Linked DNA regions of Homo sapiens. The protein of the gene in region 1 purifies or fractionates together with the protein of each later gene. This does not show direct contact. Each region holds a gene or a part of one and is shown on either strand. Other genes may lie near its edges.

What was found.
Region 2: the proteins of YY1AP1 (region 1) and B3GALNT2 purify together in Homo sapiens (affinity purification with mass spectrometry; 2 studies listed by BioGRID and IntAct, with this or other methods). This does not show direct contact.
Region 3: the proteins of YY1AP1 (region 1) and ZNF496 purify together in Homo sapiens (affinity purification with mass spectrometry; 2 studies listed by BioGRID and IntAct, with this or other methods). This does not show direct contact.

What each region holds. Positions count from the first base shown.
Region 1 is NC_000001.11:155,678,621-155,682,274, reverse strand, and holds part of YY1AP1 (YY1-associated protein 1), read left to right. Parts: intron 1-1,818; coding exon of another isoform or gene 1,819-1,838; coding exon 1,839-1,859; intron 1,860-2,266; exon of another isoform or gene 2,267-2,347; intron 2,348-2,445; exon of another isoform or gene 2,446-2,762; coding exon 2,763-2,866; intron 2,867-2,961; exon of another isoform or gene 2,962-3,167; intron 3,168-3,654. UniProt on the Homo sapiens protein: Associates with the INO80 chromatin remodeling complex, which is responsible for transcriptional regulation, DNA repair, and replication. Enhances transcription activation by YY1. Plays a role in cell cycle regulation.
Region 2 is NC_000001.11:235,446,591-235,449,626, forward strand, and holds the end of B3GALNT2 (UDP-GalNAc:beta-1,3-N-acetylgalactosaminyltransferase 2), read right to left. Parts: 3' UTR 2,173-3,036; coding exon of another isoform or gene 2,080-2,172; 3' UTR 1,851-2,079; coding exon of another isoform or gene 1,759-1,850; 3' UTR 600-1,758; downstream 1-599. Other genes in the region: TBCE (tubulin-specific chaperone E), read left to right, coding at 1,759-1,850, 2,080-2,172. UniProt on the Homo sapiens protein: Beta-1,3-N-acetylgalactosaminyltransferase that synthesizes a unique carbohydrate structure, GalNAc-beta-1-3GlcNAc, on N- and O-glycans. Has no galactose nor galactosaminyl transferase activity toward any acceptor substrate.
Region 3 is NC_000001.11:247,300,721-247,304,374, reverse strand, and holds part of ZNF496 (zinc finger protein 496), read left to right. Parts: intron 1-3,098; coding exon 3,099-3,654. UniProt on the Homo sapiens protein: DNA-binding transcription factor that can both act as an activator and a repressor.

The DNA.
Region 1 (3,654 bases):
ACATAAGGTAAAACAAATGAATAAAAATTAAAAAAAAATGAGATAGCCAAAGATTTGAAGCTCTTTACCCATTAACATGATAATCATTTCGACTTTGAATATTTGTAGAACAAGAGTCAGAACTCAGAACAAAGATCTCTGAGGAAATAAAAAAAAATCAAGCTGCCTCCTAATTTCTCATTTAGTCTGTCATTGGGCATTGTCAAACTGTCAAACTATATTTAGAGATTCTGGTTTTCATCTGGAGACTTAGTGAGTTGTGTAATATCTTGAATACACATATAAGATCTTGCCAGGTGGGGTGGCTCATGTCTGTAATCCCAGCACTTTGGGAGGATGAGGTGGGAGGATCGCTGGAGCCCAGGAGTTCAAGACCAGCCTGGGCAACATAGCAAGTCCCTGGCTCTATTTAAAAAAAAAAAAAAAAAAAAATCCTCAATGTAGAACTTTAAATTTATCCTTACGTGTTACATCCAGTTGATTTGAGAAAATATGATTCTGAATTTTCCATCAATTGGATTGGCAGTCCCTTTCAGCTTTACAGCTTTACATCATCTACAGATTTGTTAAGTATGTTCTCTTGGTCTTCTAATTCACTGATGGAGTTTTTGAATAGGTCGGGTCCAAAGATAGAGTCCTATGAAACACTGTTGGAAACTTGTCTCTGTCTGTCTCTTTTTTTTTTGGAGACAGTGTCTTGCTCTGTCGTTCAGGCTGGAATGCAGTGGGACGGTCTCAGCTCACTACAGCCTCTGCTTCTTGGACTCAAAGAGATTCTCTCACCTCAGCCTCTCAAGTATATGGGACTATATGCATGTGCGACCAAGCCCAGATAAATTTTTTTTTAGAGATATGTTGACATTTTGCCCAGGTTGGGAGACTTGTCTCTTGATTCCATTCAGTATTGTGTGGGTTTGGATAGGCCATCTAATTATAAAATCATTGGGCTGGTCATGGTGGCTCATGCCTGTAATCCCAGCACTTTGGGAGGCTGAGGTGGGCGGATCACCTGAGGTCAGGAGTTTGAGACCAGCCTGACCAATATGGAGAAACCCCATCTCTACTAAAAACACAAAATTAGCTGGGCGTGGTGGTGCATGCCTGTAATCCCAGCTACTTGGGAGGCTGAGGCAGGAGAATAGCTTGAACCTGGGAGGCGGAGGTTGCAGTGAGCCAAAATCGTGTCATCGCACTCCAGCCTGGGCAACAAGAGCGAAACTCCGTCTCAAAAAAAAAAAAAAATCATCTAGCTCACATTTTCTCCTTGTCTTCTTCCTATTAGAATTTAAGTTCAATGAGATTAGAACTCTCTCTCTCTCTCATTCTCTCATATATCCCAAGCATCTAAAACAGGGATTGAAACATAGTAAGTACTCAATAAATGTTTTTGAATAAATGAATGAAGGATAGCTGGGCGTGGTGGCTCATGCCTGTAACCCCAGCACTTTGGGAAGCCAAGGTGGGTGGATCACTGGAGCTCAGGAGTTCAAGACCAGCTTGGGCAACATGGGGAAAACCCATCTCTACAAAATATGGAAGAATTAGCCGGGCATGACAGCACACTCCTGTTGCCCCAGCTACTTGGAGGGCTGAAGTGGGAGGATCGCTTGAGCCTGGGAAGCAGAGATTGCAGTGAGCCGAGATCAAGCCACTGCCCTCCAGCCCGGGTGACAGAGTGAGACCCTGTCTCAGGAATAAGGATAGATATGAAGAATTCGTCAGATGCCTTGTTGAAAACATCATACATTGTCTACATGGAATTCCTCCATATTGTAAAATGAATCTAATTTATACCAACAACGTTTGGCTTTTTTGCAGAAAAGGAAGCAAATGAGCTGATGGAAGATCTGTTTGAAACTGTGAGTAATGATCCTCAAGTGAGAACATGGGATTGTAAGTTGGTTCTCCAACAAAATGTGTCCTTTGATCTCTGTGATGCTCCTTCTAGAAGAGGGACTGAACCAATTCTCCTTTTAGTCTACCTGGGAAAGAATATAATGACAAAAGAAATTTGCTAACTGCTAGACTCTTGATTATCCACATGTAGGTTATTCTTACTAAAATTTTCCTTGAAGCTTTTTTTTTTTTTTTTTGAGGCAAAGTCTTGCTCTGTCACCCAGGCTCTGGAGAATACAGTGGTGAAATCTCAGCTCACAGCAGCCTCGACCTCCAGGGCTCAAAACAATTCTCTCATCTAAGCCTCCTGAGTAGCTGGGACTACAGGCACACACCTACAGGCCCGGCTAATTATTTTATTTTTTTGTAGAGACAGGGTCTTGCCATGTTCTGGAACTCATAGGCTCAAGTAATCTTCCTGCCTCAACCTCCCAAAGTGCTGGAATTACAGGTGTGAGCCAGCACATCTTGCCCCTTGAAAACTTTTGATGGCTTCCCCTACTGTCATTTGGTGTGTCCTTAAAGATTGCCAACTAGTTTTAAAGTATTTTGCACACAAATAATTACCTTTTCCATAAATTTGTCTAAAAAGATATTTCTGTTTAAGAAATTGATCATTTTGAGTTATCCTAGCTCTGTGCTTACTGATACAAGTTGACTGGTTGAGCAACTTCTTTCCTGGCATAATAGTCATTCCATATGTGGGTTTGTAGGAGTCCTGAAGTGAGAAAGGTTCTGATGTAGGCTCTTTCTGGGTGCCAGCATTATTAAAGTATTGTTTATAGTTTTCACTTTTCCTTCCCAACACTGGAGCAACATTCAAAAGCCCATTCCCCAGGAAAACCCTCCCTTTCCTTTGCCCACAGTTCCAAGATGAGATGGGATTCTCCAACATGGAAGATGATGGCCCAGAAGAGGAGGAGCGTGTGGCTGAGCCTCAAGCTAACTTTAACACCCCTCAAGCTCTACGGTAGGCTAGTTGAAGACCTTGAGATTTGGAATAGAGGAAGAGTTTATTTCTGAAAAGGTTTTCAGAAGTTGCAGTTAACAATTTTTCATCCCCAGCCAGCTTCTGTTACTGATGTAAGGATGCAGAGTCCTGTCAGGAGTTAGGTGTCAAGTGAAGTCTCCTTGTTATGGGGCAGTGCAGCTGTAGGCCAAGCTGTATCTGTTTGGGAAGGGAGAAAAAACAGTAGCTGGCATCCATATCCACTTCTCCGGGTGAGTGGTGCTGGAGAGGTATGTAGGACTCAATGTGGCCAGCCACACAAACTACCCTATATTGTAATATCCAGTCTGTCCCTTTTGTTCTTTTTATGTGCCATTAATATCTGCTAAATGTGACTGAAAATTTGTTAGTCACCTAGGCATTAGTGGAGCAAACCCTGAAGCACCTGCAGTAAGGAGTCTGAAACATACGTGCTGACCTTTTTGCCTAAAGTTGGCACTTGTGTTACAGCATCCAGAAAGTAGAGGCTTTAATTTTTTCCTCATTTTGTGGTGGATTTGCATCTGCACTTTATTCTGTTGTAGCAGCATATAATCATTAGGTCGATGGCGAGAGGTCAGGATGCAGTTTGTGCCATAAGTGGAACAAAGCAAAGAGAATAGTCCCTGTAATTAGTCCTGTGTTTGAACTTAACAGCACTACTAAGCAGAGAGCTTGGGTTCCATCTGAAAGCTAGACCTTTAGGGATTTTCCAATTTAGTGAAAAAAGATAAGATAGGCCAACCAATGTCTTAAAAACTAGAACTACT
Region 2 (3,036 bases), about 80 Mb from region 1:
TTTTCTGAATGTTAAGACAGTCATGTTACTATATTAAAAATGGTAATGCTATTTATTACATAGAGATTGCTACTTTCTTCTATAGAACCGGTATGAGTAGGCAGGTTTTTTTTTTTTTTTTGAGACAGGTTCTCACTTTGTTACCCAGGCTGGATGGAGTACAGTGGCGCGATCATGGCTCACTGTAGCCTTGACCTCCTGGGCTCAAGTGATCCTCCCAAGTAGCTGGGACTAGAGGCGTACATCGCTATGCTTGGCTAATTTTTTATTTTTTGTAGAGATGGGGTATCCTCATGTTGCCCAGGCTGGTCTCAAATTCCTGGGCTCTGATCCCTCTGCCTCCCAAAGTGCTGGGGTTACAGGTGTGAGCAGGCCAGGCAGATTTCTTATTAGAACTGTTTTATGACCAAACTTTTTGTTTCTGGCATGTGTTAGGAGTATGTCACTCCCCACTGGTGTGCAGCAGGTAACCCCTTCTCTCACCAGCCTTCAAACAATGAAAGCCAGTCCGTCTCAATCTTTTGAAAGGACTAGACTATCACATATTCACACATGAAAGAGCAAATTGTTAATTAAAATTATAAATTCTATTAACTGTATTCAATACATACAAAAAGGCCAGTTTTTATTCTAAAATAAAGAACATTTATTATCACAAGTTGGATAAAAACACACAGCTTTTACAAAAATGATTTTTGATAGAAAAATATGTTTGAATACACTGTGATATTTGTAGGAACACCACACTATTGCTGTATCTCCAGCTAAAGCTTCAAGGAAACTCTATTTCTTATAATCAAAATATCCACTATTTACCACAACCCGTCTTTGGAAAGAAGTTCATAGTGTATTCTGAACAAACCAAAGCATTTACTCGGAAGTTACATTCCCATGCCTGGCAGTCACTTGTGTATGTTTAATACAGTTACACATGATGTAATTACAGAATGGCGGCGCTGGAAGGGACCTTGTAGATCATTTAGTTGGCACCCTAATTTTACAGAGGGGGAACTAAGGCCAGAGTTGAGAGATGTCCTCAGGATACCTGAGTCCCATTCCAGTGTTCGTTCAGTAATTCATAAGGAAGTCATCATAAAGGTTTAAAAAGAAAACGTTAATGACTCGCTCCCTTTATTCTTCTGTGCTGAGAGTATCATTCTGGTTTATTCAGATTAAGAAAGAAATACACTACTGAAATGGTATGAAACTCACTGTCAAAGGGCACTTAGGTCCGTTGGCTCCGTTTCCCACAGTTCCCCAAATGAACAGGTGGTACAAGACTCAGGCTTTCCCCTAATTACTTACTTGGGTAAAGTGACTTGGGTAAAATGAAAGATACAGCCAGGCGCTGGGCTCATGCTTGTAATCCCAGCACTTTGGGGGGCCAGGGCGGGCGGATCACGAGGTCAGGAGTTCAAGACCAGCCTGGCCAACATGGTGAAACCCCGTCTCTACTAAAAATACAAAAGTTAGCTGGGTGTGGTGATGGGCACCAGCTACTCAGGAGGCTGAGGCAGGAGAATTGTTTGAACCCGGGAAGCGGAGGTTGCAGTGAGCCGAGATTACACCATTGCACTCCAGCCTGGGCGACAGAGCAAGACTTACTTAAGTAAGTAAGTAAGTCAGTCTCAAAAAAAAAAAAAAAAAAAAGACAGATACAGCTATCATTGCAATGATACTGTGGTCTCATCACATGAGCTAGTTTTACAGGTAACTGTCATTTGAGAGAACGAATGGACTTTTCTTGTCTTTTGATAGGCTCCATGACAATTCAAAAGGTGAAGGGATTGCTGTCACGTCTTCTCAAAGTTCCTGTGTCAGACCTTCTGTTGTCCTATGAAAGTCCCAAAGTAAGTTGCCCAGCAAAATACAAAGTCAAAGTCAAGCTTAGTCCTCGTATTATGACATTAAACTGTCTCTAGATAGCAACAGTTTGATTCTAAATGGAGACCATGGGTCTGTTTGTTTGATTTTAAGGGTAAGCTACTGCCTGGGGACGGGGTGGGGGAAGAGTATGTGTAGCATGCTTTATCGGATCTGTCTTAATCACATCCTTCCCCACCTTCGTTCTAATTTTAGAAGCCGGGCAGAGAAATCGAGCTGGAAAATGACCTAAAGTCATTACAGTTTTATTCTGTGGAAAATGGAGATTGTCTATTAGTGCGATGGTGACAACCAACTAATAAAATTTAAAGACCACACTGCTTATCGTGTCTGGGGTTCACCGGAAATAAATGATTCACTGGAACAATTCTACTGTCAAAACAAAGGGGGTTTACAACTTGTCCTAAGTATAACAAGGGATGTATTTTTTGTTGGGAAGTGACCATTTCTAGGCTTATACATAATAGCAATAATAAAGGCTTTGAACCTACTAATGATTTTCTGATCTTATTTCATATTTATTTTTACAGCTCATCACTGCATTTCATGATAAGATTTAAATATTAAATAGAAAGAAACTAGCTAGCCTAATAAAATCTGAACACAGTTAATATCTGTCATAAGACTAGTTTTAATGGAATTCTCTATTGAAACTACTATTTTAAAGGGTTACTAGAAATGATTTGGTTGGTCATTTTGGGAAATGTCCCTTAAACTTGGGGAGACATCCTCTACTATGTATAACAATATGCTATTATCTGTCTTCTCAGTTGCACTATTTCTAAGAGTACTTAAATTAATCACATGCTTTTCCCTACAATTATACCTAAGCTGAGTATATCTTCTTCTGTGATAACCAGCTTTGATTGAAATGTACTCATATTAGGTAAACATTAGGCAATGATAGGAGGAAAGCAAAACTAATTCTTTCAAAATGTCAACAAAATTTAGAAATATCCTTCCCGATGGCACTAAAACCCTGAGAGGTATTTGCTTTTATTCATACTCACACAACTTTAGCATTTAAAAACTATGAGTACTAAACTGTGACCTTCAGGATTTATGTTAGATGGCAGAAAGAAAATTTGGGTATTAGTCTACCATATAAATGAACTTCTTTAAAACCAAGGTTCAGAACTGAGAATCATATTG
Region 3 (3,654 bases), about 92 Mb from region 1:
AAAATCTAGCAGGTCATTTCCATGGGATTTTAAGGCTCAGCAATAACCTCTGGCTCAGTTCTCTGTTCTCCAGGCCCAGCAGGCTACTGGCCCTGCTCTTTGGAACTCAGAAGGAAATGACTTCACCTCCTGAGCCTGTACTCTCTGGTCCCATGATGACAGTGGCAGTCCTGTAACCTCTGAGCCACCTTTGGAGTCATTCTTCCCTTTTCTTGAAGGATAGTACATATTCATAGCCAGATAGATCTATCGGCCAGTTTGTAGAATCCCAGAAGTCCTAGCCTTCTTTTATTTCATCCCATCTCTTTTCCTTTCAGTTCCAGCTGGCAGTGTTTCTGCTGGTATATAATACTCAGAAACCCTGCCCTCCATGCAGTCCACAGGGTTGCAGGCCGTCAGACGAGGGTGTCCTCCATAGACCTTCCTGGATAACCTCATCTCTGTTCCTGGCTTCTGTTGAGATGGTTGATTGGATCCGTGAATCATACCCAGAATCTCTTTAACAAATGATGAGCCAGCCACACTCTTGGTGTCTCTCCAGTGCACGCTTTCTTATTTTTTGCCGTATGGATAGACAGAATTTTCCAAATCTTGAAGTCATGGTTCCTTTTTGCTACAACAATTCCTTCTTCAGTTTATCTCTCTCATCTCACGTTTCACTATAAGCGGCAAAAAACTAGTCTTTGCCTTTGACACTTTGCTTCGATACCTCCTCAGCTCAGTATCCGAGTTCCTTACTTACAATTTCTGTTTCCACAGAACAGTTGAATATGGTTTGGCCAAATTCTTTGCCACTTTATAATTGGAGGATCTCCTTTTCTCCAATTTCCTATAACGTCCGTATTTCTACCAGCCACTTCCTCAAGGCTTTTTAAACATGCACTTCAGAACTCTCCTGGCCTCTCCCCATGACCTAGTTCTAAAATCACTTCGACAGTTTTTGGTCTTTGTTTTAGCTGCACCCTACTTCCTGGTGCCAAAGTCTATGTTAGTCTACTGTGGCTACCATAACAAGGTACCACAGGCTGGGTGACTTAAACAACAGAAACTTACTTTCTTACAATTCCAGAAGCAACAAGTCCAGAATCAAGGCTTCAGCAGAGCTGGTGTCTTCCAAGGCCTTTCTCGTCTTGGAGACGGCTCCCATCTTGCTGTGTCCTCACAGGGTCCTTCCCTCTGTTGAAGTCTGCCTCCAGTCTCCTCCTCTTAGAAGACCAGTGATTTTGGATTGGCCCCACCATCTGACTTCATTTTGACTTAATTACTTCTTGAAAGACCCTATCTCCAAGTAATCACATTCTGAGGCTCTATGGGTTAGGGCTTCATCATGTAAATTTTCAGGGGGACACAATTTCGCCCATAACATGCACTGTCTGCTCTCATAATTCCATCTCCTCGCCCAGTTAACAAGTAAGAGATCTTAGCGGTCCACCTTGTCACTTTGTTTTCTTCTTCCACCCAAGTCCATTAACAGAAGTCAACTGCTGATCAAGTACCTTGTCATCGGCAGCCTGGTAAAAGTTACACCTTGCTCTTGTCTCCACCCCATGAGGTCCACAAAGTACATCATACACATGACCTCACCTGCCCCACCAGCAGCTTAGAGCAACGGGCTGCCACTGTCATTCTCACCTTGTAGACGAGATGACCCAAGCTCAGAGAAGCTGTCTGGCTGGAACGAGGTTCCTGCAGCTCGAAAACCAAGAGTCGAGATAAGCGTCAAACATAGCCTCTCGGCGGGCGCAGTGGCTCACACCTGTAATCCCAGCACTTTGGGAGGCTGAGGCAGGTGGATCACCTGAGATGGGTGGCTCGCTTGAGCCCAGGAGTTTGAGACCAGCCTGGGCAACATAATGTGACCCCATCTGTACAAAAAATTAAAAACACATGCACACACACAAACACAATCTCTGTCTTCATCTGATGATTTCCCTCCTATACTACGTGGGTTCTTGGCAGACTCAGTACCCACTCCCAGACTCATGTTCCCCCGACCCCCTTGTGACTGAGGGACAAATGCCCCCTCCGCTTCCACCATTGCCCTTTATCTCTCTGCTCTCCATAGCCTCTGTGTCTTCCTGCCCTGCTTCTGTTTGTCCAACTTCTCCTGTCCTGAGCTGCTCTGACTAGCCAGGGCTCTCCTCCCCACAGTCATGAAGCCCAGACTAACCATGTTCCTACTCTTATCTGGGAGGGCCTGGTTCACTCCCCCCAAGTTCTAGATTTGAGTTCTACATTTCACAGCAGTGAGGAAACAGGCCACCTGTATGGTGGGCTCTGCTCCATAAGCCGGGACCTCAGGCCGGGCTCTGCACTGTCCACCCAGCCCCGCCCCGTGGTTCCACCTTCCCAACATCACAGACTCAGGATGCAGGAAGTCCAGAGCAGCTTTATCCATCACCACCTGTGGCCTCAGAAATGCGGTGCTACTGGGAGCCGGGGAGCTGTGGGGGACCCAGGACTCTGGGCAGTCTGGGACTGTTGAGCAGCCTAGCAAGGCTGAGTAGCATTTCAGCCCTCCTTCCTGGCACAGATCACCTTAGTTTATGTGTAAACATGGCAACCAATAGGTCATCGGGTTGCGTCCAGGAGCAAATAGGAATGTGCATGTCAAGTCTAGCACAGTCCCTGGAGCATGCAAGTGCCCAGCACATGATATGTGTAGGTTGTAGAGTCTTCCTCTCTCAAGTCCTTTCACTATCCTGATAGAGCTTTCCCCCATGCCTTGTTAAGTGCATGATCTGTAAATGGTCAAGGCTTTACCCAGATAAATACAGACTCCTAGAGCTTGGGGGGATGGGGTGGTCTCCGTGGGTAGAGAACAAAAGGGTTGGGGGTGGAGATAAGGGAAAATGGCTGGGAAGAGGGAGAGCAAGGTGCCCAGCATGCTCTGGACACAGCGGGGCCCATGCTGAAGATTTCTTCCTCACAGGCTACACCAGTGGCCCCTGCAGGGCTGGCCAGGCCGCCCCGGTCACCGAGGACCATTGTAAAAACACGGGTTTGTAAACTCCAAGCTGAGTGTTCCTCCGCCGCGGTCATAGGGGCTGGGATGTGGCCTGTGCAGCGTCGCTGACCTGCATGTTGCCTTCCTGTAGCTGGCGGCAACCCGCGATCTCTAGAGAACAGCCTGGATGAAGAAGTGACCATCGAGATCGTTCTCTCCAGCTCTGGGGACGAGGACTCCCAGCATGGCCCGTACTGCACAGAAGAGCTGGGGAGCCCCACAGAGAAGCAGCGCAGCCTCCCCGCCTCCCACCGGAGCAGCACCGAGGCCGGAGGCGAGGTGCAGACCTCCAAGAAGTCCTACGTGTGTCCGAACTGTGGGAAAATCTTCCGCTGGAGGGTCAACTTCATCCGGCATCTGCGGAGCCGCAGGGAGCAGGAGAAGCCGCACGAGTGCTCGGTGTGCGGGGAGCTGTTCAGCGACAGCGAGGACCTGGATGGGCACCTAGAGAGCCACGAGGCCCAGAAGCCTTACCGGTGTGGTGCCTGCGGGAAGAGCTTCCGCCTGAACTCCCACCTGCTCTCCCACCGGCGGATACACCTGCAGCCGGACAGACTCCAGCCGGTGGAGAAGAGAGAGCAGGCGGCATCCGAGGACGCGGACAAGGGTCCCAAAGAGCCGCTGGAAAACGGCAAGGCCAAACTGAG